7 linked regions of the Homo sapiens genome follow. The protein of the gene in region 1 purifies or fractionates together with the protein of each later gene. This does not show direct contact. Each region holds a gene or a part of one and is shown in the gene's direction. Other genes may lie near its edges. The genes, in order: PDGFD, MAEA, ACTR1B, PRKCI, LRP2, UBR1 and KLHL22.

Region 1 (3,500 bases):
TCCTGACATGGCGGCTTCACTCTCAGGAGAATACACGGATACAGCTAGTGTTTGACAATCAGTTTGGATTAGAGGAAGCAGAAAATGATATCTGTAGGTAAGTTGGGAAAAAAATTTTTACGGTACTATTTCAAGGTGAAAAAAGAAAAAGATGAATTTAAAGCATCGTATCAAACATTCCTTTTGAGCCTTTTAAATGGACCCAACATGTGTCGCTTCTTTTTCAAAAAGCCTAAAGACCCTAACAGACAAGATAGCGTAGACTGCTGAGGCAGAGAGCCGAATAACCTGGCAGTACTCACAGAAACTCACTTGTGCAACTGTCAGGACTGTGTGACCTCCAAAGAAGGGTGAAATCTGGAGGTCCTCTCCTTTTCCAGGCACAGAGCAGCATTTATGCACAGGTATCCAGCATCCCAGGTTACGGGCAGCTGCATCATGTGTGGTCAAAGCCTGCCATGGGCTTAGGGAGCATAAACCCCTGCCCGGCTCCCGCTGACCCAGGCCTTCCTACCCATAATGAATTACGCCAGCACTGGGAGATGATGGTTGGGGAAGCTATCAGGGCCTGACCCCGAATTCATAGTGTTAAGGCCTCAGATACGGGTGGGAAGGAAGAGAAAGCTCACCCCAGATTCCCTGTGCTCCTCAGAAGGGTCTGTTTCTTGCAGTTTCTGGGTCACAAGTAGAAGATGAAAGCTGTGTCTGATAATCTTCTCTCTTCTTAGCATATTTATCAAAGAAAGCCTGGACTGTTGTTCTTTGAATGTCCGCTCACAGCATTTTACTCGCTTAATTAGCATGTATAAGACTTGAGGAAGATTTTTTTTTTCTTTTTTGTACTTTACTGCACACACTTGTTCTGCATTGCCAATGAACTACTGAACTGCTAAATCCTTTCAGCGGGTTTATTTTCCTTTGAATAATAAAAAGAGGGGCCTCAAATTTGGTTGTCCTCTGTTGCATGTTTATTATGCTGACAGCTTTTATTATGTTGCTATTTTGCTGAGAATAACAGCACTGACTATTACTTTCTAGGACCATAGAGGGTAATGTATGCCAGAAAGCAGAGATGAATACATTAAGGAAGAGCCAGTTAATATTTACAAAGAGAATAAACTAATGCTGATCTTGCGTCTTTTCCATCTCAAAAAAAAAGAACTAATATTCTGTGCCTAAAAAATCATGGGAAAAAGACGCTATTAAAAGATTATTAAAGGTGATGATGTGGAGGGTACCATGATCTGTTTCTGCCCATAGAACACTTCCAATACCAAATCTGTGAGGTGAGGGTTTTTTCCCACAGCAGTTAATCCTCCAACACCAGCTTGTTTTGTCCTATTCAATTCAATTCAGACACTACCTGGAATCAGTGTCAGATCCCACAAGTTAAGGCTCAGTCCCACAAGACTGCCTCCATGTTCTATGTCAGTTGCAGCTTCCAAGCCTCTCCTACTTCTGATCAACCAGCTGTAAATAGGGGTTCCATAACCCTCTTCTTGGGTTGAATAATTTGCCAGAACAGCTCACAAAACTCAAGGAAACAGTTTCCTTGCTATTACCAGTTTATTATAGAGGATGCAACTGAGGAACAGCCAAGTGAAAGAGATACATAGGCAAGATGTATGGAAAGAGTGCTTTCTCTGGGTTTGCAACCTTCGAAACACCTGGATGTATTCACCAGCCTAGAAGAGTATTGATGGAAGTCTCATTGTGAAGGCACGATTAATTAAATCATTGGTGATTGAACTCCATCTCCAGGCCCTCTCCCTCCCCAGAGGTCTAGGGGTGGAGCCAAAATTTACAACTCTCTAATCATGTCTTGTTCTTTCTGGTGATGAGCCTCCATTCTGAAGCTACCTCGGGGCCTCCCAACAGGTACTTCCAAAAGGCAATGAATTTATTCATTAGGATAAATTCTGGTATGGTTGGAAGGGGGCTTATTATGAATAAAAAAAGATGCTCCTCTAACCCCAGCACTCAGAAATTCCAAGAGTTTTAGGAGCCTGTGCCAGGAACAAAGACCAAATATATATATTTCTTATTATTACAATATCACAGAAGGGAAGCCAGGTCTCCACTACTGAGCTGGAGTTTTGATCCTAGCAGTGAGTCCTTTTGACATCCTGGCCTTGAAATTAAGGGAGGAACAGTGAGGATGGTTTCCTTTCTGAACCATTAATCAAATCTAGTTGCTCCTCAAAATTTATGGAAGGAAGTAGAAGTATAGCAGGTAGAAAAGAGGAGAGAAAGACGGGAAAGAGACAGACCAGAGACTTGTCTCAGAACCCTCCCTAAGAGATAAAACAGCCCTCTCTTGACTTCAGGTTCAGAGTTAAAGTTACAATGATGTGTTCTTTAAACAAAAGTGACCTATGGTGTTATTAAAAGTTTCAATTATAGTCATGCTTTGTGCAGTAAATATGATTTACATGTATTGTATACAAAATGAAATGGAATTGATTTCCTACCATCTGTTCCAAAGCCTCCTTGATGTTTACATTGTAATATTTTGTTGCTTGCATAATGATACTTTGTTAGTGCTTTTTACCTTCCAAGCACCATATAAACATTAAGTGATTAATTTACACAGCACCCAAGAGATATGGAGCTGGTAAAATTATATAAGCCTTCTTATTTTATCCATAAGGAAACTGAGGCAACGGACATAAGGGCCTTGTAAATCACTGTTAGAGAAATTTAGTCACAATATCATTATTTTTTACTTTCTTTTTACATTACCTTGCCCAATCCAGTAGAGCTCTGAGGTGCATGAGTAAGACCAGGAAGGCCATATTGGTTTCTCTATGTATTCAGAAATAATGTTTCTTATGATGATTCCTTCTGATGATTGTAACAGAAAACTGTAATATGGATGTGAGATTTCTGCCACTGTTCACCCTGAATGCCCATCATTTGCCTGTGACCTCAGCATCTGAAGTCACTGTGGAAAAGTAGATTGTAGGAGCGAGATACTGATGACCAAAACTGAAAGAAATAGTTCAGCTTATCAAGTAGAAGGTTCCAACATCTTAGGGAGCTGAAAATAGAATAAGTGCTCCCTAGAAGATGTAAACTATGTTACTGAGGATCTCCTACTATGTGATAGAATGATGGAACACTCTGGAGGTGCTTTGAAGACCAAATGCCCACAAGGATAACTAAAGCAGCTTTTGCTGTCTTCTTGAATCCCAGGATTCTAGTTTCTCCGACCAATGCCAGAGGTGAACTTATGGTCTTAAGCTCATTCACACCCTGGTTTAACCAGCTCAGATTTTTCCAATATTGGTTAGCACACATCTCTCCTTAAAGTTACATGCTTTCCTTCATGATAAGTTTCATATTTTATGACGTGATCATTCCAAAAGATCGTTTCCAAAAAGAGAATATAGCAAGTCGTGTGTATTCATTTATTTTCTGTAATGGCATTACTGATTTTGTAAGCTATATAGATATAGGTCATTTACTTTCTCAAGAAAGCACCGAATGCAGTAAATTAA
Region 2 (3,500 bases), on another chromosome or scaffold:
TTTTTTTTTTTTTTCTTTTTTGAGACGGAGTCTCACTCTGTTGCCCAGGCTGGAGCGCGGTGGCACAATCTCAGCTCACTGCAACCTCTGCCTCCCAGATTCAAGCAATTCTCCTACCTCAGCCTCCCGAGTAGCTGAGATTACAGGCACCCGCCACCATGCCCAGCTAATTTTTTGTATTTTTTAGTAGAGACGTGGTTTCTCCATGTTGTCCAGCTGGTCTTGAACTCCTGACCTCAGGAATTCACCATCTTTCAATTCAACATGCATAGTTCACCATCTTGAATTGGAAGCCCTTGCTTTCATTATTTTGTAAAAGGTTTTTTTTTTTCTGATTATAAAAGTAATTTGATGAGTTGGGTGCGGTGGTGTGCGCCTGTAGTCCCAGCTAATTGGGAGGCTGAGGCGAGAGGATCACTTGAGCCAGGAGATCCAGGCTGTGGTGAACCGAGATTGCACCACTGCCCTCCAGCCTGGGTGACAGAGTGAGACCCTGTCTCAAATAATAAATAAATAAAAGTAATTTGTTTTTTCTTCAAGTTACCCTGCTGCACAGAGAGAACTTCATTAACATTTTGGTGTATTTACTCCTACTATTTCCCTTCAGATAGCCGAAGAAAAATAATAGTTTAGAGAATTTCACATGGGTGTCTGCACAGCCCAGGGCGGGAAGTGGTGTTCATCACCTGGAGACCCTGGTCTGGACCTGGCTCCTCTCTGTGAACCCCACCTGGGCCCACCTCTCCTCTCCTGGAGCCCCAGCAAGGGTTCCCAGCTCCAGTGAGTCCTCTCACACCCAAGGTGGTGATGCTGTCCTCTCCCCAGAGGACAGGCTGAGAAACACCGGGCTTGTGGTTGCATTCTCAGGTGTCTGAATTCTCTACAGGAAGATTTGCATGTTCTGCCTTTGGTTTGATGACAGTCTGGTTGCCCAGGCATGGCCCTGATGCCTCACAGCCTGGGTCTGTGCCTGTGGTAGGGAGTTCGGGTGCCAGCTGTGTGCTGAAGTTGTAACTGCTCCTGCGCCTTTTGTAGTTTTCTTCACTCCATCTTGGCTGGATTTGGGAGGATCATGTGTTCTCGAGTGTGAGAAACACAGGCAACCACGAAGCGTTTGACTTACTGACACACACATTGGGTTGGACCCTGGTGATGCCGTGTCTGAGGAGTCTTAGGCCGGGTCTCCACCTCTTCTGTGGCCGGCTTTTTCGATGTACTTTATCTGCAGTAACGTCACAGCCCTCCAGAATCCGCCCGGTCTCTAGAGCACAGTGGAAATTCCTTCTGCCCAGAAGAGCCATGGTCTGCCCTTTGTGGCTCCCAGCTCCACTCCCCTCGCCTCTCCCACCGTTTGCTGGTGGTTTGGCCCTGGGCTGGCTTCCGCGGCCTCCGCGCTGGCACAGGTCTTCCCTCCCAGGCCTGGGCCTTTCCAGCTGGTTGGGCAAGGCTGAGATAAGGATGTAGACTTGAATTCACTGCTAGCTGGGGGGTTGGTTTTGTTTTTGTTTTTTTAAGTATTATTTTTTTAACACATTTCAAGTCAAGAAAGTGCTTTTTAATGCCTGATTCACCGTAATGGCTGGGCTAGGTTGGAGGCAGTACTGACGTGAGGCCTGGAGCGGCCCTGGGACCTAAGCAAGGCACCGCCGCCGGGCTGCAGAGCAGGGCTGCAGGTGCACTTAGCTTCTCCCATACCCCCCTCCGCAGCAGTGGTCTGAGAGCCTCCATCGGCCAGGTACGGTCAGGCCCTGCACAGTCAGGCCCTGGGCTAGCATGATGGGGAGACAAGTGAGGCCCCTGTCTACGCTCCGGTGGGAGGGAGGCATCAGCACAAGCACACACAGACATCTCAGATCCTTTAAAGACGCTGATGAGGTTGAGGTGATGTTGGACAGTGGCAGGGGACGGGGGTGGGGCCGGGGGCAGGGGCAGGGGCAGGGGCGGGGGTGGGGATGAGCTTCCTCCAGTGAATGCGATATTGTGAGCTGGTTGGCGGAGCTAAGTTTTGGGGTGAGGCTCTGTGGACCGTGTTGAAGTCCTGGCCGGCTCTCACCCCAGTAGGCACACAGGCACACAGCACCATTGGGGTGATGTGGCTGGGGGTGTCCCAGAGCTGTGCAGGGAGGGTCTCACAGTGAGACTGGGTGCTGGGCAGTGACTCGGTCTGTGGGTACAGGGGTCAGCAGAATGGGAAGCAAGCCCAAGGAGACACATTGGCACCAGAATGAAGACAAGGCCGGCCGGTGCCTGTAGCATGTGACTGCCCCGTCTGCAGAGAGGCTGTGCTGCGAGCCCCACCCTCTGGGGGCTTCAGGCCGAGTGGGGATGTCTGGGTGCTGACCCAGGCATCGCAAAGCACACTTCCTGCCGGGGTAACTGCTGATGATTTTTAGGTCTGTTATTTCAGAATCGTTATAGCTAGGGGCCATTATTTTGAAAACCTGAACAAAAAGAATTATTCACTGTGTTAATACCACATTTAGTGACTGTTGAGCTGAATGTGGCTGAGCAGAAGAAAGCACCTGCTGTGCTGATGGCTGACTGTGGACCCGGACCGGGACCCTGAGTGCTGCCCCACTCGAGGGAGGGGCCCAGAGCAGCCTCCTTCCTCTCCTCCCAGGCGAGCCTTTCATACCTGTCCTTCTCTCAGACTTTCCCTCCTACTTCATGCTCGCCCATGCCTGTCACGCAGACCCTGCCTGACCTGCACCTGCTCCCACACCCGTGGTGGATGAGCCCCATCACCCGTACCTGTACCCCCCTCACCCGCTCCTGTACCCCCTCACCCGCTCCTATACCCCCTCACCCACACCTGTACCCCCCTCACCCGCTCCTGTACCCCCTCACCCGCGCCTGTGCCCCCTCACCCGTGCCTCTGCCCCCCTCACCCGCGCCTGTGCCCCCCTCCCCAGCGCCTGTGCCCCCTCACCCACGCCTGTGCCCTCCTCACCCATGCCGGTGCCCACCACACCTGCGCCTTTGCCCCTTCACCTGTGTCTGCACCGCCCTCACCTGTGCTGCCTTCACCTGCACCCCCTCACCCACACCTGTGCCACCCTCGCCCGCACCTGTGCCCCCCTCACCCACGTCTGCACTGCCCTCACCTGTGCTGCCCTCACCTGTGCCCCCCACCTGTGCCTGTGCCCCCCTCACCTGCTCCTCCCTCACCTGCTCCTCCCTCACCTGCTCCTGCACCACCTTCACGTGCGCCCCCCACCTACATCTGCACCTCACCTATGCTACCCTCACCTGTGCCCCCCCACCCGCACCTGTGCCCCCCTCACCCACGTCTGCACTGCCCTCACCTGTGCTGCCCTCACCTGTGCCCCCCACCTGTGCCTGTGCCCCCCTCACCTGCTCCTCCCTCACCTGCTCCTCCCTCACCTGCTCCTGCACCACCTTCACGTGCGCCCCCCACCTACATCTGCACCTCACCTATGCTACCCTCACCTGTGCCCCCCCACCCGCACCTGTGCCCCCCTCACCTGTGCCTGTGCAGC
Region 3 (2,803 bases), on another chromosome or scaffold:
GACGGCAGCACGCTTGATGTAAGTGGCCGGGCCTGGCACTGGAGTGGCAGCCGATGCCCAGCCTGGGGGAAGGGGTAGCCCGCTTCTCCAGGAAGCCTGTCTGCCTCAATCTTGTACACTAAAGGTGGGGCCTGCACGATTCCGGGCCCCCGAGCTGCTGTTCCAGCCGGACCTTGTCGGGGATGAGAGTGAGGGGCTCCATGAGGTGGTGGCCTTCGCCATACACAAGTCCGACATGGACCTGCGCCGGACGCTGTTCGCCAACATCGTGCTCTCAGGTGGCTCAACGCTTTTCAAAGGTACTGTGGCTTGAGAGTTGGTGGTGGTGAGACGAGGCCCAGGGCAGCTGGACCCTCAGAGAGTATACCCCTACCCAGAGCCATATTCTGTTGGCTTTTTGGTGGTGCTCAATGAACATTTTTTTTAACAGACCAAAATTTAAAATTAAATTTTGTTTACTCTGTGAATAGAGGAGAAGTTTACACAAGCTCTAAAGTGTATTGTGAGAGTCGAGCAAGGAGCATGTGCGGCTTCATCTCACGCTGCCTCTGTGAGGACGCAGGGCCCGCAGGCAGCCATGGGGCTGGATCATTTCTCAGCCTTGCCCTTCATCCTGGGAAGAGCTGCTGATAGAGGACCAGCAGTAGCTGGGGGCCCTGAAGGCTGGGTGCGGGAGCTAGCAGCGAGGAGGCCGGGTGCAGACCCCAGGCTCAGCCAGCTTTGTGTTCACAGGCTTCGGAGACCGATTACTCAGTGAAGTGAAGAAGCTTGCCCCAAAGGATATCAAAATCAAGGTGAGGTTACAGAAACTCCCCCTGGGGCACTAGGGCGCTGGCAGCCTTGGCATGGGGAGGAAGGTTGAATGCTGCCCCCAGACCCGCTCACCAGCTCACGTCCACCTAGTCCTGTTCTTCCCAAGGCTGCTGCTGCCACTCCCCAGCTTATGCCTTTGCTGTCAGGCTTCAGGACCTGGGGAAGGTGACCCCAAGGCTGGGAGGATGGCTTCTGGGTGGGGATCCACAGTTAACGTGGCCACTTCCTCCTTCTAGATCTCAGCCCCGCAGGAACGGCTGTACTCCACATGGATTGGGTGAGGCGGGGCTCAAGGGAGGGCTCTGGGAGGAGACCACTTTACCCTGGATGCTCCTCCCATTGTTGGCCTAGGCCACGTGGAGGTGGGTGGATTTCCCTCCCAAATTAGGGAAATGCAACTCTGAGCACCCAGGAAGGTGGTTGGCTCCCTGACAGGTCCACAGCAATACTATCCCTCCATCCCCACAGCGGCTCCATCCTGGCCTCGCTGGACACTTTTAAGAAGATGTGGGTGTCCAAAAAGGAGTATGAAGAGGATGGCTCCCGTGCTATTCATCGCAAAACTTTCTAGTGCCCAAGGAGGGCGGGGCATGTTGGGAGAGGGGGAGGGAGGGGAGACAGAGCCTTTAACCCTTTTTGGTCTTGGCTCGTATACTAGGCTTAGGGTCCCCTGCATGCCCTGAACCCCTGGGTGGGTGGCACAGCAGTGCCCCCCTGCAGCCTTCCCCTCTACACAGGACATGCACACACAAGTAACATTGAGCTGCATGGACAGGAGCCTTGAGCTGGCGTGTGGGAATTGAGCGCCATGTCAGGCTGTTGTGGGTATCCCCCTGGCAGGGCCAGCTAGGCCTGTGGTTCCCTGCTCCGACTCTCAGGGCTGCCTCCCTGAGCTCCAGGGCCAGAATGCCTGGATGCCTGGGTAGCCAGTTTGGGGAGTGGGCTGCAAGGGGCAGCCAGCAGCTCCCACTGGTGTGTCACTGCATCCATTGCCACCTCCTGTTCGTGACCTGACAGGGTGACACAGCCCCTTTCACACTCTGTCCTCCTATCTTCCTGGGTAGATGCCCTGGTGTAGGGCTGAGTACTGAATGGTCTTCCATCCCCAGCAAGGGGGTGCAGCCCAGGGTCAGGCCCTTCAGAGCCAGGGCAGAGGATGCACGGTGGCTAGAGCCGCTGCACTATCCTTTTCAGAGCACTTCATCCACTTGCTCCTCCCTCTACCCTCGGCACCCTGGGTGGGAAAGGGTTGATGCTCATCATTTATTGAGGGGAAGCCACTTAATAAGGAGTCAGACCTAAAAGGGGGTGGGGGACATTTTCTTACCTCACCCAAGAAAGAGGTCGTCACTTTTGCTGTGGCCAGGGCCCCACCTCCCTCTCTCAGATATGTACAATAATTTAACACGGTTGCCTGAAAAAAACTTTTGTAAATCATTATAGTAATAATTATGGACAAGGCCCAGTGTGTGGCTCTGTTTTCTTGTGGCTCTCTGTGCTATCGTTTGTTCTTCCATCCCTGGGGACTTTCAGAGAAAGGACCAGAGAGAATGCAGCAAGGCACTGGCTCTAGCTTAGCGGCATGAAGGTTTCAGTGGTTGGCCCGCCAACGTGGCACAAAAAGCCTCAGGAGGCTGGGCTCTCACCCTGTAGCATAATTCCCTCGCCTGTTACCTCCCCTGCTGCAGTCCACCAGGGGAAGTAGAACCAGGCTACCTTCTTTGCCCCCGGACCCTGGACAGGCCTATTTGAGCACCTCTGCTCACCCCATTCAGCCAGGGCTAAGGCTGGTGGACACCAGCAATGATGCAAGCTCACGCCTTCAGACAAGTCAGGATGGGGAAGGCAGGGAGAGGCAGAGAGGCTGTGAGCTTAGCCAGGCCCTAGAGGAATAGGCAGAAGAGCAGTGAGGAATTAGGGTTTGGAGAATGTCTGCTCTTTACTTTCTTAAGTGTTTGAGAACCTACAGTGTTTCCAGGATGGTGCCGTG
Region 4 (3,500 bases), on another chromosome or scaffold:
CATGTGTACCCTTTGTTTAGCTCTCACTTATAAGTGAGAATATGTGGTATCTGGCTTTTTGTTTCTGATTTTTTTGACTAGGGATAATGGCCTTCAGTTCCATCCATGCTGGTGTAGAAGACGTGATTTCATTATTTTTTATGGCTGTCTCACTCCCACTTTCTAGAGATAGCCATTGTTAACAGTTAGGGATATTCTATATCATATCGGTATATTTATAAGTATAGATATGTATGTGCATACACACACACAGACATACCCTTTTATTTTTCCAATAAATGAGTTCATATTTCCACACATGCATCTGCAACTTGATTTTAAAAATCGTGGTCATCTTTTCATTCCAGGGTAGACAGACCTCTTTATAGTTGGTAATACAGTGTTCTACAGTTGTTGTTGTTGTTTTAAGAGACAGAGTCTGATTCTGTTGCCTACGCTGGAGTGCAGTGGCATGATCTAGGCCCTCTGCAGCCTCAACCACTCTGGGTTCAAGCAGTCCTCCCACCTCAGCCTCCTGAGTAGCTAGGATTAGCTCACGCCACTAGGCTCAGCTAATTTTTTTTAATATGTTTTGTAGGGACGGGGCTGGTCTCAAGCTCCTGTGCTCAAGTGATTCTCCTGCCTCGGCCTCTCAAAGTGTAGAAATTACAGGCATGAGCCATTGCGCCCAGCCACCATAATATGTTTAATCTTTTTTCGGATTGATGAACATTTAAAGTTGTCTTCATCAACTCACTATTTCAAATAATGTTGAAGGAACCTCCTTATATTTAATACATATTCTTGTAAATATGGTCAAAGATATGCCTATCTTGAAATATGATATTGTTTCCCAAAAGAGCTTAATTTACATTCTTAACAACAGGACTAGTGAAGCTTCTGCCTTATATTCCCATTGCATGTTATCTGTCTTTTAAATTTTTGACTGTCAGATTGGCAAAAAATGGTAATTTATTTTTACAAGTATCTTTTATATATTAATGATCATTTGTATTTCTTCTGGATTGTTCCTATTTTACCCATTTTCTATTGTATTATTTTTCTTATTAATTTGTTGACAGGACATTGACATTTTGTTAAAGTTGCCAGCATTTCCCCAATCTGTTGCTAGTCTGGAGTTTTTCGTTTTTATGTCATCAAACCTGTCCTTTTTAAAAATTTCCTTGATAGTTTCTGGATTTACTGTCTTAGGTAAAAGTGTTTTTCATCTAAAAATATTCTATTTTTCTTCTATTATGCAACTTTTTTTTTTTTTTTTTTGAGACAGAGTCTTGCTTTGTTGCCCAGGGTAGAACCCAGTGGCGTGATCTCGTCTTACTGCAACCTTTGCCTCCTGGGTTCTAACAATCCTCCTGCCTCAGCCTCCTAAGTAGCTGGGATTATAGGCGCACGCCACAACACCCGGCTAATTTTTGTTTGTTTTTTGAGACAAGGTCTTGCTCAGTCGCCCAGGCTGGAGTGCAGTGGCACGATCCTGGCTCACTGCAGCCTCTGCCTCCTGGGTTGAAGTGATTCTCCTGCCTCAGCCTCCCAAGTAGCTGGGATTACAGGCATGCGCCACCATGTCCGGCTAATTTTTTATTTTTAGTAGAGACAGGGTTTTGCCATGTTGGCCAGGCTGGTCCCAAACTCGTGACCTCAAGTGATTCACCCGCTGTGGCCTCCCGAAGTGCTGGGATTTTAGGCGTGAGCCACTGCGCCTGGCTTATTATGAAACTTTTAAAGTGATTATCTTTTCAGTGAATCTGGTATTTTGGGGTTTAGTCATTTATAGGGTACTGACACAACTTTTTTTTTCTCCAAAATTTATTCTAATACCATTATTGGGCAGATTGTCCTTTCACCACTGATTTGAAATGGTAACTCTGTTATGTACTAAATTTCCCACAATGTGCGTAGGTACTTTCTATTGTTTCATTGATTTTAGGGGAGAGATCTATTTTTGCACATACCACTATTGGTTTAATTATTGTAATATTATAGTTAACTTTGATATATGTTATGGAATGGCTTGATTCATTATTTAATTTTTTTTTTTTGTTTTTTTTTTTTTTGAGATGGAGCCTTGCACTGTCACCCAGGCTGGAGCGCAGTGGCGTGATCTTGGCTCACTGCAACCTCCGCCTCCCAGGTTCAAGCGATTCTCCAGTCTCAGTCTCTCAAGTAGCTGGGATTACAGGCAAGGCGCTACCATGCCTGGCTAATTTTTGTATTTTTAGTGAAAATGGGGTTTCACCATGTTGGCCAGGCTGGTCTGGAACTCCTTACCTCAGGTGATCCATCTGCCTCGGCCTCCCGGAGTGTTGAGATTACAGGCTTGAGCCACCGTGCCCGGCCTATTCCTATATATTTTATAATCATGTGCTTTTGTGAATGGGGTCTTCTTGTAGACCTATTACATACTGTTTTCTTTTTGTATGTTTAAATTAAACTTTCCACCTTACTAATAATTTAACTGTCTTAGAATTTTTAAGCTAGATAATGTCATCTGCAAGTAGCAATTTTGCCTCTTCTTTTCTATATCTTATTTATTTATTTATTATTTATTTTATGTTTTTTGAGACAGAGTCTCACTCTGTCGCCCAGGCTGGAGTGTAGTGGCGTGATCTCGGCTCACTGCAACCTCCGCGTCCCAAGTTCAAGTGATTCTCCTGCCTCAGCCTCCTGAGTAGCTAGGATTACAGGCGTGCACCACCACACCTGGCTAATTTTTGTAGTTTTAGTAGAGATGGGGATTCGCCATGTTGGCCAGACTGGTCTCGAACGCCTGACCTCAGGTAATCCACCCACCTTGGCCTCCCAAAGTGCTAGGATTACAGGTGTGAGCCACTGCGCCCAGCCTTATTTATTTTTAGCCATAGGCTAGAATTTTCTAGACAGTATTGAATTATAGTAATAATCTCTTATCTTAGTGAAATATAATAGAAAAATTTCTGTCAATTAAAGAAAAAAGCTTTTAAAGAATTAAAGTTAGTGTTATTCAGAAATGTTACTGAGGCCGAGTGTGGTGGCTCACGCCTGTAATTGTGCCACTGCACTTCAACCTGGGTGACAGAGCGAGACTCTGTCTCAAAAAAAACTCAACTGAAAAAAGTGGAACAAAAGAAAAAGAACCATGATAAGTATTTTGCACTTTTTTTTTTTTTGAGGCACATTTCTACTCTGTCACCCAGGCTGAGTACAGTGGTGTAATCACAGCTCACTGCAGCCTTAACTGCCCAGGCTCACGCAGTCCTCCTACCTCAGCCTCCCAAGTAGTTGGGACTGTAGGCACACACCACTATGTCTGGCTAATTTTTAATTTTTTTGTAGAGACAAGGTCTCCCTGTGTTGCCCAGGCAGGCCTCGAACTCCTGTACCGAAGCGATCCTCCCACATTGGCCTTTCAAAGTGCTGGGATTATGGCATGAGCCACCTTGCCTGGCTGCACTCATTTATTTTCATTTATTTTTCATTTTTTGAGTCAGTGTCTTCCTCCATCACCCAGGCTAGAGTGCAAT
Region 5 (3,500 bases), on another chromosome or scaffold:
CATATTATTTTAAGTGCCAGTTCATAGGCAAATTATGAGCAGATTTATATACTGACCTCCCTAATCCTCGCATGATTTGTAGAAGAAAACAAGTGAAGCCCCATTCTCTAACTATTATACAATAGTTGGGTTACTGGTTTCATACCTTTAGGTGTTATTGTATAAGCTCTAGTCTCTCCGATGTTGTTTTTAGATTGCTAACTCAGCTACTATATGTTGGTTATTAATTTTTAGAATAAATTATTTGGTGACCCAATTAAAGAAATTTGAGATGGGGTGGCGAGTAGCTAGGATCAAAAGTTACAAATGGATTTTGTTTTCATTTAGATGCCGCCGAATCCTCAAATGGCTGTAGCAACAACATGAATGCCTGTCAGCAGATTTGCCTGCCTGTACCAGGAGGATTGTTTTCCTGCGCCTGTGCCACTGGATTTAAACTCAATCCTGATAATCGGTCCTGCTCTCCATATAACTCTTTCATTGTTGTTTCAATGCTGTCTGCAATCAGAGGCTTTAGCTTGGAATTGTCAGATCATTCAGAAACCATGGTGCCGGTGGCAGGCCAAGGTATGCCAACTCCAATATAAGTAAGATTTGACTTCATCTGGCACCAGGTTGAAATCCCTGGTGCCATGAAAACATTTCTTCATGTGTGGATTCAGTGCATAATGAAGCTTTCCTTTCCCTTTAAATCAACTGGCACAGCCTAAAGTGTTTTTCAAACTTTAGTGTGTCTCAGAATCACCTGGAGGGCTCACGCCAACACAGCTCCAGACCTCGTCCCCAGATTTTTCTGATTTTGTAGTCTAGGGTAGGGCCAGAGAATCTGCACTCCTAATAAGCTCCCAGGGCATGCTGACGGTGCTGGCCCATGGATCACGCTAAGAACCACAGGCCCAGAGCAATATAGAATGTAGGATGGGTTTGCAAGAAGTACTACAGAGTTGGTGTTCCAAAGAACTGTGCCCTATTTCTGATTATTAATGGAGATTTATGGTAGAAGGTATACTACTATTTAATATGGTAATGAAATAGTCCACAAATATGATTTATTAATATATATTTGGTGAATTGAAGCAAAAGAGTTCACAGTGTCAGTCCCTCTTTAGTAATCATATTTTTGCAGCACTTTGTGCTTACATACTGTGAATGTATGAAACGATCACTTGCTTCCTAGATGAGCCAAGGTTTTTAGGTATACCTTAGCACAAGAGGAACTAAGAGTTTTCTAACATCGCTAGGAGAATGTCACAGGCTAAAGAGAGAAATAGAGGGTAGAAAGGAAGGAAAAAAGGATGAAGTCAATGAAGGGGTTGTAGAGATGGTCAGAAAATACAGAAATGCACCTGGAGAAGGGAATCAGAGAGCTTCCAGTCCCACACGTCCTCCTGCCTGATGGTCATGTTCACGTGGACCCATGACTCATCTTTGTTTTTCCATATCTAAAAAGTTATGGATCTAAGTTATCATCTTGTACAGATATGACAAATTCAATAGTTTTTTTCTCCCAGCTTTTCATTAAAAAAATGTTCAAACACAGAAACGTTGAAAGATTTAGGAAATATCCTTATACCCTTTACCAAGATTTAACAGTTGTTAACATTTCTTCACATTTGAGCTCTCAATTTGTATGTGTGTGTGTGTACATGCATATGCATTCACATTCATTTTTTATGAACCTTTTAAAAATAAATTTTAATACCATGCCACTTTACCCCTACATATGTTAGCATACAGTTTCAAAGGGCATTATGAAATATTCATAATCATATTTCTCCAGTTGGCCTCACAATATTTTATATATAGCTGTTTTGTTCCATCCAAGATCTAATCAAGATTCATGCACTGCACTGGGAATATCTCATTAGTTTCTTCCAGTTTGGAGTAGTTGCCTCTAGCTTTTTGCTATGACATTGATGTTTTAAAGAGGCAGACCTGTTGTCTTTGAGAATCCCACACTGAGGATTTGTCTGAATATTTAGTCTGTCTTTCATTTTTTACCCTGCAGTTCTCATGAAATGGAAGTTAGGTCTAATTGCTTGATTAGATCAAGGTTAAATACATTTAGCAATAATACTTTATAGGTTATGCTGTGTTAGTTGATACAGAATCTTATTAGGAAGAACATAATGTCAGCTTGCCCTGCTCTTAGTGGCATTTGAGTTTGATCACTTGGTTAAGGTGGTCACTGCTACACTGCTGCTTTTTAAAGCTGTATTTTTTTTCCTTCTTAATTTTGGTGGAATCTATGCAATCACACTTAGGCCCTGTGAATGTCTTGGCTCCCAAGCACCTTTTACCCATTGGTTTTGGCAGCCATGGATGATCCTTGTTTGAAATGATTATTTAATCGAGGATTGCAAAATGGTGATTTTCTTATTTTAGCATTCCCTTTACATTTGTTAGATAATATTCTTCTATAAAGGAAAGCTCTTCGTGTCTCCCCGGTTTACTTTTTAAATAATTTATTATTATTATGGGCTCAAATTTTTATTTTTTAAATTCAGTGTGTTACAGTCAATTACTGTAATCCTTCTTTTGATGTTTTAGTGGATCCATTTTGGCCAGGGAGAACCTCTTCAAGTGGCGACCTGTATATTTCTGTGTATGCCTTGTTTCTTGGTACAATAAGATGTTTCACACTCACTTCGTACCTTCCCTGCCTAAACCTATAATCAACATTTCTCCCGGGAGCCAGAGCTCCTTATTGTGGGAAAGAGTAGAAACCAAGATGTGGGTCTGCTCACTGCAACTGGGAAAAAAGGGTTTCATTTTGTAATGGGGAGATGCTCAGAGCAGGGGGTTGGGAATGAGGGTTTGAGAGGAAGGGCAGACATTTAAAAGTTCTAATTTCAGTGACAGCATTTTTTAATGATCTTTTCTTAACTTCCAGGACGAAACGCACTGCATGTGGATGTGGATGTGTCCTCTGGCTTTATTTATTGGTGTGATTTTAGCAGCTCAGTGGCATCTGATAATGCGATCCGTAGAATTAAACCAGATGGATCTTCTCTGATGAACATTGTGACACATGGAATAGGAGAAAATGGAGTCCGGGGTATTGCAGTGGATTGGGTAGCAGGTATGTAAGCTATATGGTGATTTTAATATGTTTGCATCTCTGTCATCTTATTTTATGCTAGAAAGTTTAGCCTAACTCCATGTGCTACAGGTTTGTTTTTCTAGACAATTATTAAGACCATTTAAGATACATTGAATCTAGATTAAGCTACGTGTCTATTTGATAAATGATACGGTGTTTCAGTTTACAGATTTATAACAAATTAATCCTTATCATTTTCTTCTGTTATTAACATAATCTGGAGACAAAAGTGGCTAAAATATTAAATTATGTGGATTTGTTTTTTTTACACTTAGATTTGCACCTGATTTCTGCATTAGAAATTTTCTAAATTTTCAAGAGAAAGAGATATAAAAATATAAACTATGGAACAGCATTCATTTGCTTTGAAGCTGAGCAATTTTAGTTGCCAAATTCT
Region 6 (3,500 bases), on another chromosome or scaffold:
CTATCTACCAAATTAGATTGCAAGGGTATACAGATCAAGGACTCCTTTGAATCTTTTATTTTGCCTTATATAAGGCAATCATACTTGCCAGTCATACTTGTTGATTTCCTCTGATTTTGAGTTGCAGTCAATTCTGTAAGACTTAAGATAGATATAGGACCCAAGATGGAATTGGAAGCAGAGAAAGAAATAATGATTGTTGTAGGCAAATGACACTGTGGGATAAGATACCTGCATTACCTGGATTTTATATGCAGACTTAAAAGTAACTAAGACATTTGTTGTATGTCTTATCCTTCAGCAGTGATGGCAACTCAAGATGTTCTCTTCTAAAACTCTTCAGATATAGAATATTGGACCATATGTGTGATCTGAAATGAAATTTTGTTTTCTTATACAAAAGCTAATCTCCCTACTTAGATGATTTTTTTTGTACACCATGGTTACCCCTTAAACTTTGTAGGAATTCTGGAGGGTAAAGTATCTAACTTAAAGTAGGTTAAGTATCCAACTTTGTGCCTTACACATAATAGATGCCTATTATGTGACTGAGTATATTCCTATTTTTGTTCTCCCAGTATATCAGGGTTGTTTTGCAGCTGTTATGTACCAGTATGGGAAAGAAGTTATTTGCAGCCAGCATCCATTCTGTTTAAGGCTGGATTCAATCTGATTGGTTGGTTTTTCTGGGTCATATCAGTTGTTAAATACTTTGAATATATTCCCTGCCCAATACCATTAGAGTGGAAGCTGCTAAAGATTGCCCCAGATTCTGTTTGGAGAAAGGATAAACTATACCATTGCAGTCCTCTGTTTTTTGTTTGTTTGTTTGTTTGTTTTTTAACCTATGTGTATATTTTAATAGTTTCCACTTCTATCTCTGCTAAATTGAGTAGGTGAATTTTTACTTGATTTGTTGTTTGTTATTCTCCTTCTAAGATATTTTTGCTGATCATAATATCTTGCCTTAATAAATAGGAATTATATTACTTGACATTTTATAGATAGAAACAAACCTGCAGCAGTTATTAAAATTGGGATTTTTTAAAGGTCTTTAGTAGTGATTTATAATTGATTCTCTACTTATATATTTCAGTATTATAAACAACTGCAGAAAGAATATATCAGTGATGATCATGACAGAAGTATCTCTATAACTGCACTTTCAGTTCAGATGTTTACTGTTCCTACTCTGGTATGTATTGATTATTCCTTTTCAGTCTTTCTAAGTAAAACTTGTTTTGCTTTGTAAGAATTCCACTTAATGTTGAATCAAATTAGAACAATGTTAGAATCACTAAGTTGGGCTATGTGAATACTTTAGTGCTACCCAAGGACTAGTTAACTAGGCGCTGCCTTGGTTCAGATGTCCTCGTCAATGCAGATGACACCTAGAGCTGGTTTCTTACTTTCTAGAGTAACTTATGAACACTGCCTTTTCAATACCAAAAATATTTTATTTTTAAGTTATTGTTTGTAGGCAGATAGAATAAGATAAAACTAAGAAGTGGGAGGGTGTGCCTGTCAAGCATTTGGGAGAGAGGGTGCTGCATAGGCCTGGGAGGAGAGTGGAAGATTCTGCTTCCTTTGTATACCACTTCTTTTCTTTGTTTTTTGTTTCTTGAGACAGAGTCTTGGCTGGGTTGCCCTGGCTGGAGTGCAATGGGACGACCTGGGCTCACTGCAGCCTCCGCCTCCCGGGTTCAAGCGATTCTCATGCCTCAGCCACCCAAGTAGCTGGGACTACGGGCAGGCACCACCACGCCTGGTTGATTTTTGTATTTTTAGTAGAGACGGGGTTTCACCATGTTGGCCAGGCTGGTCTCAAACTCCTGACCTCAGGTGATCTGCCAGCCTTAGCCTCCCAAAGTGCTGGGATTACAAGTGTGAGCCACCGCGCCCAGCCCTACTTCTTTTCTTGTCTGGAATTAGATAGTTATCCAAACTTGGTTAATTGTTTCTACTTTACTTTTTCAAAAGGATGGAGAGGAGAGTTTAGATTGGGGTAAGGAGGAGATTTCAGAATAGATCGTAGTGTGCTAGAAGTCATGAAGTATATCTTTGTTATACTTGCTCATTGTGTGATTTTTTTTTTTGAGATGAAGTCTCTCTCTGTCACTCAGGCTGGGGTGTAGTAGCACGATCTCGGCTCACTGCAACCTCCGCCTCCTGGTTCAAGCGATTCTCCTGCCTCAGCCTCCTGAATAACTGAGATTACAGGCATTGCCACCACACCTGGCTAATTTTTGTATTTTTTGTGGAGATGGGGTTTTGCCATGTTGACCAGGATAGTCTCGAACTCCTGAGTTCAGGTGATCCGCCTGCCTCGGCCTCCCAAAGTCCTGGGATTACAGGCATGAGCCACCACATTACTGATGATAAACATTTATCTAGATAACCTGTCTAATGGGCTTGGAGTATCCAGATAGGTGTTGTCTAGTTACTGAGGAGTAGGGAATTTTTTCTTTTAGAAAATAACTTCTTAGTAGTTGCTATTCAGTGAAACTAAGGACTGTGTTTAACATTCAATAACAAACATTTATTAAAAATGACATACTGACTAACCAAATGAATGAATAAATTAAGTCCATACCACAATGAGTTAATGCTAAAGAAAATATTCTTGAAATATTCCGCAGGCTCGACATCTTATTGAAGAGCAGAATGTTATCTCTGTCATTACTGAAACTCTGCTAGAAGTTTTACCTGAGTACTTGGACAGGAACAATAAATTCAACTTCCAGGGTTATAGCCAGGACAAATTGGGAAGAGTATATGCAGTAATATGTGACCTAAAGTAAGTTGTTCAAGTCAAAAGGTGAGGGCACCTGTTAAACTCAGTGTGCTTATTTGCTGTGTCTTATAAGTAATCCTGTGATCATTTTGGTTATCCAGAATTCTCTTTATAATGATGGCAAGTACAAAGAACTGTTACTGCCTCGCGTTAATAAATGTCTTCAGTGAAGGCTTCTTATTGAGTTGTAAAACCTGGTTAGTAAAGAAGGTATTGAGGAGAGGCCCATTACAGGAACTTGGGATCTCCTGGGGTCACCAAATGCATTGCCATTGTAATTACCATACTTTTCATTCACTTCCACTCACACACTTTGGTTCTGTCCTTCCTATATAGTCTCTTTGTGCATAGTTTCAGACAATCTATTGACATAAATTTCTTTCTTTTTTTTTTTGAGACAGGGTCTCGCTGTGTTGCCCAAGCTGGAGTGCAGTGATGCAAACATGGCTCACTGAAGCCTCAACCTCCTGGGCTCCAGTGATCCTCCTGCCTCAGCCTCCCATGTAGCTGGGACCACAGGCACGTGCCACCATGCCTGGCAAATTTTTTATTGTTTTGTAGAGACGGAGTCTCACTTTTTGTTGCCCAGGCTGACTTGGACTCCTGGGGTCAAGCAGTCCTTCTGCTTTGGCCTCCCATAGTGTTGGGATTACAGTCATGAGCTACTGCGGCTGGCTGTTAACATTTTTTTAACTCCTTTTTGCTA
Region 7 (3,500 bases), on another chromosome or scaffold:
ACATGGTGAAACCCCATTTCTGCTAAAAATGCAAGAAAATTAGCTGGGTGTGGTGGTGCACGCCTGTAATCCCAGCTACTGGGGAGGCTGAGGCAGGAGAATCACTTGAACCTGAGAGGCAGAGGTTGCAGTGAGCCAAGATCACACCACTGCACTCTAGCCTGGGTGACAGAGCGAGACTCCGTCTAAAAAAAAAAAAAAGGGCAGGTTTGAATGGTGGGGCATATTTGTCATGTTCTCTGTACAATGATAGAGGGAGAAGTAATCGAGCTAGACCTTGACCAATATGGGACTATGAGAGACAGAATGGCCTAGATGGGTGACTAAAGGTGTTCAGGGGATGACAGGTATCCCTTTTGGACTAAGGACTGCTGATGGGGCTGAGTAGGTAAGGCTTGAAGGAGAGCAGCCTGGGGAGGATGAGACAAGAGGTAGGGAAACTGGTAGGGGCATCACTGCTGTGGTCTGACCCAGAGTGGTGGCCCTGGAGGAGTGGAGGGTGGCTGTCTGAGATGGAGGAGAGGTGAAGGAATCAGAACTAGTAGGTTCATAGGGCACATGGGTTAGAAAGGAAAAATATTAAAACAGTGAGGTTTCCAAGATGGAAATGGTAGCTTTGATAGTAAAATTAGACAAGTTGGAGGGCTACTAGCTAGATTAGGCACTGAGCTGTAGGTGAAACTGGGAATGTGAACCACTGGGAAAGAAGGATGGGCTCGAGCAGGGTGTGTGGGATGAAAGAGAGAGGTCAGAAAAGGGAGAATTATCATAGAGCAGAGTTTCCAGGCAAGAGAATCCTAAGTGAGAGGTGGTCATGGGGTATACACCTTGGCTGTGGCCATCTCTGGGGCCTTGGTGAGAAAGATGAGCCAGCCCAGGAGGGGGAAAGGAATGGGTGGGTGGCTGGATAGAGGTCCCAGGTCCTGGAGGCAGACTCAGGGGCAGGCACAGATAACTGAGTGTGTTTGATGGGAAGCAGTAGAGCATCCAGGGGATGGGGTTGGGGGTGGCCCTGAGCCTCAGTAGTGAAGAGAGAGACCTCTTCTTTTTGGCAAGTTTTATATCAGCATATATTTTTCATTTTTTCTTTTAAAGATATATAATCATGTGCCACACAGTGATGTTTCCGTCAATGACAGACCAGACCACATGAAGGATGGTGGTCCCATATTTTTACTGTACCTTGTCTGTGTTTAGATACACAAATTCCATTGTGTTACAGTTGCCTATAGTATTCAGTACTGTGATATTGTGAAATATATATTTGGTCTTGTCTCATTTCTTGGCATACAACTTCTAAAATCTTTGGACTTTCCAGAGTGATGCCTTTTTGTATGCTGGCCAGCAGCCCCTAGGTAGCTTCAGGATGGGGGCTGGTGACAGGAAAGGCCAAGGCAGGCATAAGAGGGTTGGGACTTTCAGCCTCACCTCTCAACCTCCGGAGAGGGGAGACAGGCTGAAGATTAAGTTCATCACCAATGGCCAGTGATTTAATCAGTCATGCCTACATAATGAAGCTTCCATAAAAATTCTGAATGACTGGGTTTGGAAAACTTCTGGATAGTTGAACACATGGAGGCTCCTAAAGAGTGATGTTCCTGGAGAGGGCCTGGAAGCTCTGCACCACTTCCCACATGTCTGGCCCCATGCATCTCTTCATCTGTATCCTTTGCAATACCCTTTATAACAAACCAGTAGACATGAGTATTTTCCTGAGTTCTGTGAGTCGCTCTAACAAATTAGTTGAACCCAAGAAGGGGATCTTGGGAACCCAATTTATAGCCTATTGGTCAGAAGCACAGGTGAAACAACCTGGGAGACTCAGCCCTCAACCTGTGGGATCAGACACTGTCTCCAGGTAGTGTTAGAGTTGAATTAGAGCAGGGGTCCGCAACCCCCAGGCCTCAGACCTGTATCAGTCTGTGGCTGGTTAGGAACCAGGTGGCACAACAGGAGGTGAGTGGAGGGTGATCCAGCATTACCACCTGAGCTCCACCTCCTGTCAGATCAGAGGTGGCATCAGATTCTCATAGGAGCACAAACCCTGTTGTGAACCATGCATGTGAGGGGTCCAGATTGTGTGCTCCGAAAGAGAATCTAGCTAATGCCTGATAATCTGAGGTGGAACAGTTTGATCCCGAAACCATTCCCCGACCCCGTGGAAAAATTGTCTTCCAAGAAAGTGGTCCCTAGTGCCAAAAAGATTGGGGACTGCTGAATTAGAAGACACCCAGCTGGTATCTGTGGCAGAATTGATTGCTTGCTTGTTAATGGGGAAAAACCCTCACACATTTGGTCACAGAAGTCTCCTGTGTTTGTTGTTGTGGTATAAGAGGAGAGGAAAAACAGTGTGTTTTTTTCATTCAGAACTACAGTAACATGCTGTACAAGTATGTAGCTTAGGAGCAATTGGCTGTACCTTATGGCCTAGATGTGTAGTAGTCTCTACCACCTAGGTTTGTGTAGGTGTACCCTTTGATGTTCACACACTGAGGAAATTGCCTCCAGCGATATAAGTCTCAGAATGTATCCCCAACATTAAGTGATGCATGACTGGAGGTAATTGGAGAATAAACATATTTTGGGGAGAGGAAAGTAGGATGAAGTGAGGTGGAGAAGACAGATGTTCACATCTTGTAGCTGACTGTGCTGTGCCTACAGAGCCTGCAGCTTGGCCATGCCTCACAGTGTGGGACTGGCCACTCCCTGACCTGAACAGCTGGCTATCCACAGTCACTTTTGGTTGCTCCATGGCAAAAGTGCATTTGCAGTAGGTTCATTTTACTGATTAGGTTTTAGAGGCTCCAATTCAAATCAGTTTGCGGTTTTTGAACGTACTGACTCAATTATTAGAAGATAATCTTTAATTTAAAAGGCAATGCAGATGAATTTAAATGCATCAGGTTCAATCACAGTTACTGTGCTTGACTCTCAGAATTTCAGTAAAGGAAAGTAGGCCCTGGAAATGCCACCCCCTTGGCACCCACCTCCCAGACTCCTGGCTGTGTGTCTCCTGACCACTACTCAGGTCTTGCCATTTTTATGCATCCATTACTATGAGGAAGAACCCAATTTTGTTCATTCAATGGGAGGGAGGAAGAGCTCTTGAGAACCTGGTGTGTGCTTATGCTTCATGTTCATTGTTTTACCAATTTTAGAATACCCCAATGGGGTAGGTACTTTTATCTCTCTTTTTAAAATTGGGGAGCTCGAGGCTCAGTTTGGTCATGTTGTAAGTCCCTGTGGAGTTGGGCTCCAACCCAGGTCAGTCTGTTTCCCAAAACCCTTCTGTTTGACTTTGCCGCTGAAGAAGATACAATGAGATGAAGAGTCTTGGGCATGATGGCACACAGGTCATCAGGAAGAAGGCCATCAGGAAGTTGGACTAGAGGTGGGAGGGGAGAAGGAATTAGGGGATTTGGAAATAGAGGGAAAACAGGTGAGCCTGAGGGAGGCACAGGAGCAAGGGGAGCAACAGAGCTGGCCAGTCTGTGTGTGGT

The links.
Region 2: the proteins of PDGFD (region 1) and MAEA purify together in Homo sapiens (affinity purification with mass spectrometry; 2 studies listed by BioGRID and IntAct, with this or other methods). This does not show direct contact.
Region 3: the proteins of PDGFD (region 1) and ACTR1B purify together in Homo sapiens (affinity purification with mass spectrometry; 2 studies listed by BioGRID and IntAct, with this or other methods). This does not show direct contact.
Region 4: the proteins of PDGFD (region 1) and PRKCI purify together in Homo sapiens (affinity purification with mass spectrometry; one large-scale study listed by BioGRID and IntAct). This does not show direct contact.
Region 5: the proteins of PDGFD (region 1) and LRP2 purify together in Homo sapiens (affinity purification with mass spectrometry; 2 studies listed by BioGRID and IntAct, with this or other methods). This does not show direct contact.
Region 6: the proteins of PDGFD (region 1) and UBR1 purify together in Homo sapiens (affinity purification with mass spectrometry; 2 studies listed by BioGRID and IntAct, with this or other methods). This does not show direct contact.
Region 7: the proteins of PDGFD (region 1) and KLHL22 purify together in Homo sapiens (co-immunoprecipitation; 2 studies listed by BioGRID and IntAct, with this or other methods). This does not show direct contact.

What each region holds. Positions count from the first base shown.
Region 1 is NC_000011.10:103,996,648-104,000,147, reverse strand, and holds part of PDGFD (platelet-derived growth factor D isoform 1 precursor), read left to right. Parts: coding exon 1-97; intron 98-3,500. UniProt on the Homo sapiens protein: Growth factor that plays an essential role in the regulation of embryonic development, cell proliferation, cell migration, survival and chemotaxis. Potent mitogen for cells of mesenchymal origin. Plays an important role in wound healing.
Region 2 is NC_000004.12:1,292,891-1,296,390, forward strand, and holds part of MAEA (E3 ubiquitin-protein transferase MAEA), read left to right. Parts: intron 1-3,500.
Region 3 is NC_000002.12:97,655,439-97,658,241, reverse strand, and holds the end of ACTR1B (beta-centractin), read left to right. Parts: coding exon 1-18; intron 19-124; coding exon 125-299; intron 300-732; coding exon 733-794; intron 795-1,049; coding exon 1,050-1,090; intron 1,091-1,281; coding exon 1,282-1,384; 3' UTR 1,385-2,303; downstream 2,304-2,803. UniProt on the Homo sapiens protein: Component of a multi-subunit complex involved in microtubule based vesicle motility. It is associated with the centrosome.
Region 4 is NC_000003.12:170,228,924-170,232,423, forward strand, and holds part of PRKCI (protein kinase C iota type), read left to right. Parts: intron 1-3,500.
Region 5 is NC_000002.12:169,209,035-169,212,534, reverse strand, and holds part of LRP2 (low-density lipoprotein receptor-related protein 2 precursor), read left to right. Parts: intron 1-327; coding exon 328-567; intron 568-2,893; coding exon 2,894-3,082; intron 3,083-3,500. UniProt on the Homo sapiens protein: Multiligand endocytic receptor. Acts together with CUBN to mediate endocytosis of high-density lipoproteins. Mediates receptor-mediated uptake of polybasic drugs such as aprotinin, aminoglycosides and polymyxin B.
Region 6 is NC_000015.10:43,054,039-43,057,538, reverse strand, and holds part of UBR1 (E3 ubiquitin-protein ligase UBR1), read left to right. Parts: intron 1-1,096; coding exon 1,097-1,195; intron 1,196-2,639; coding exon 2,640-2,797; intron 2,798-3,500. UniProt on the Homo sapiens protein: E3 ubiquitin-protein ligase which is a component of the N-end rule pathway. Recognizes and binds proteins bearing specific N-terminal residues that are destabilizing according to the N-end rule, leading to their ubiquitination and subsequent degradation.
Region 7 is NC_000022.11:20,489,296-20,492,795, reverse strand, and holds part of KLHL22 (kelch-like protein 22), read left to right. Parts: exon of another isoform or gene 1-2,965; coding exon of another isoform or gene 2,966-3,028; intron 3,029-3,500. UniProt on the Homo sapiens protein: Substrate-specific adapter of a BCR (BTB-CUL3-RBX1) E3 ubiquitin ligase complex required for chromosome alignment and localization of PLK1 at kinetochores.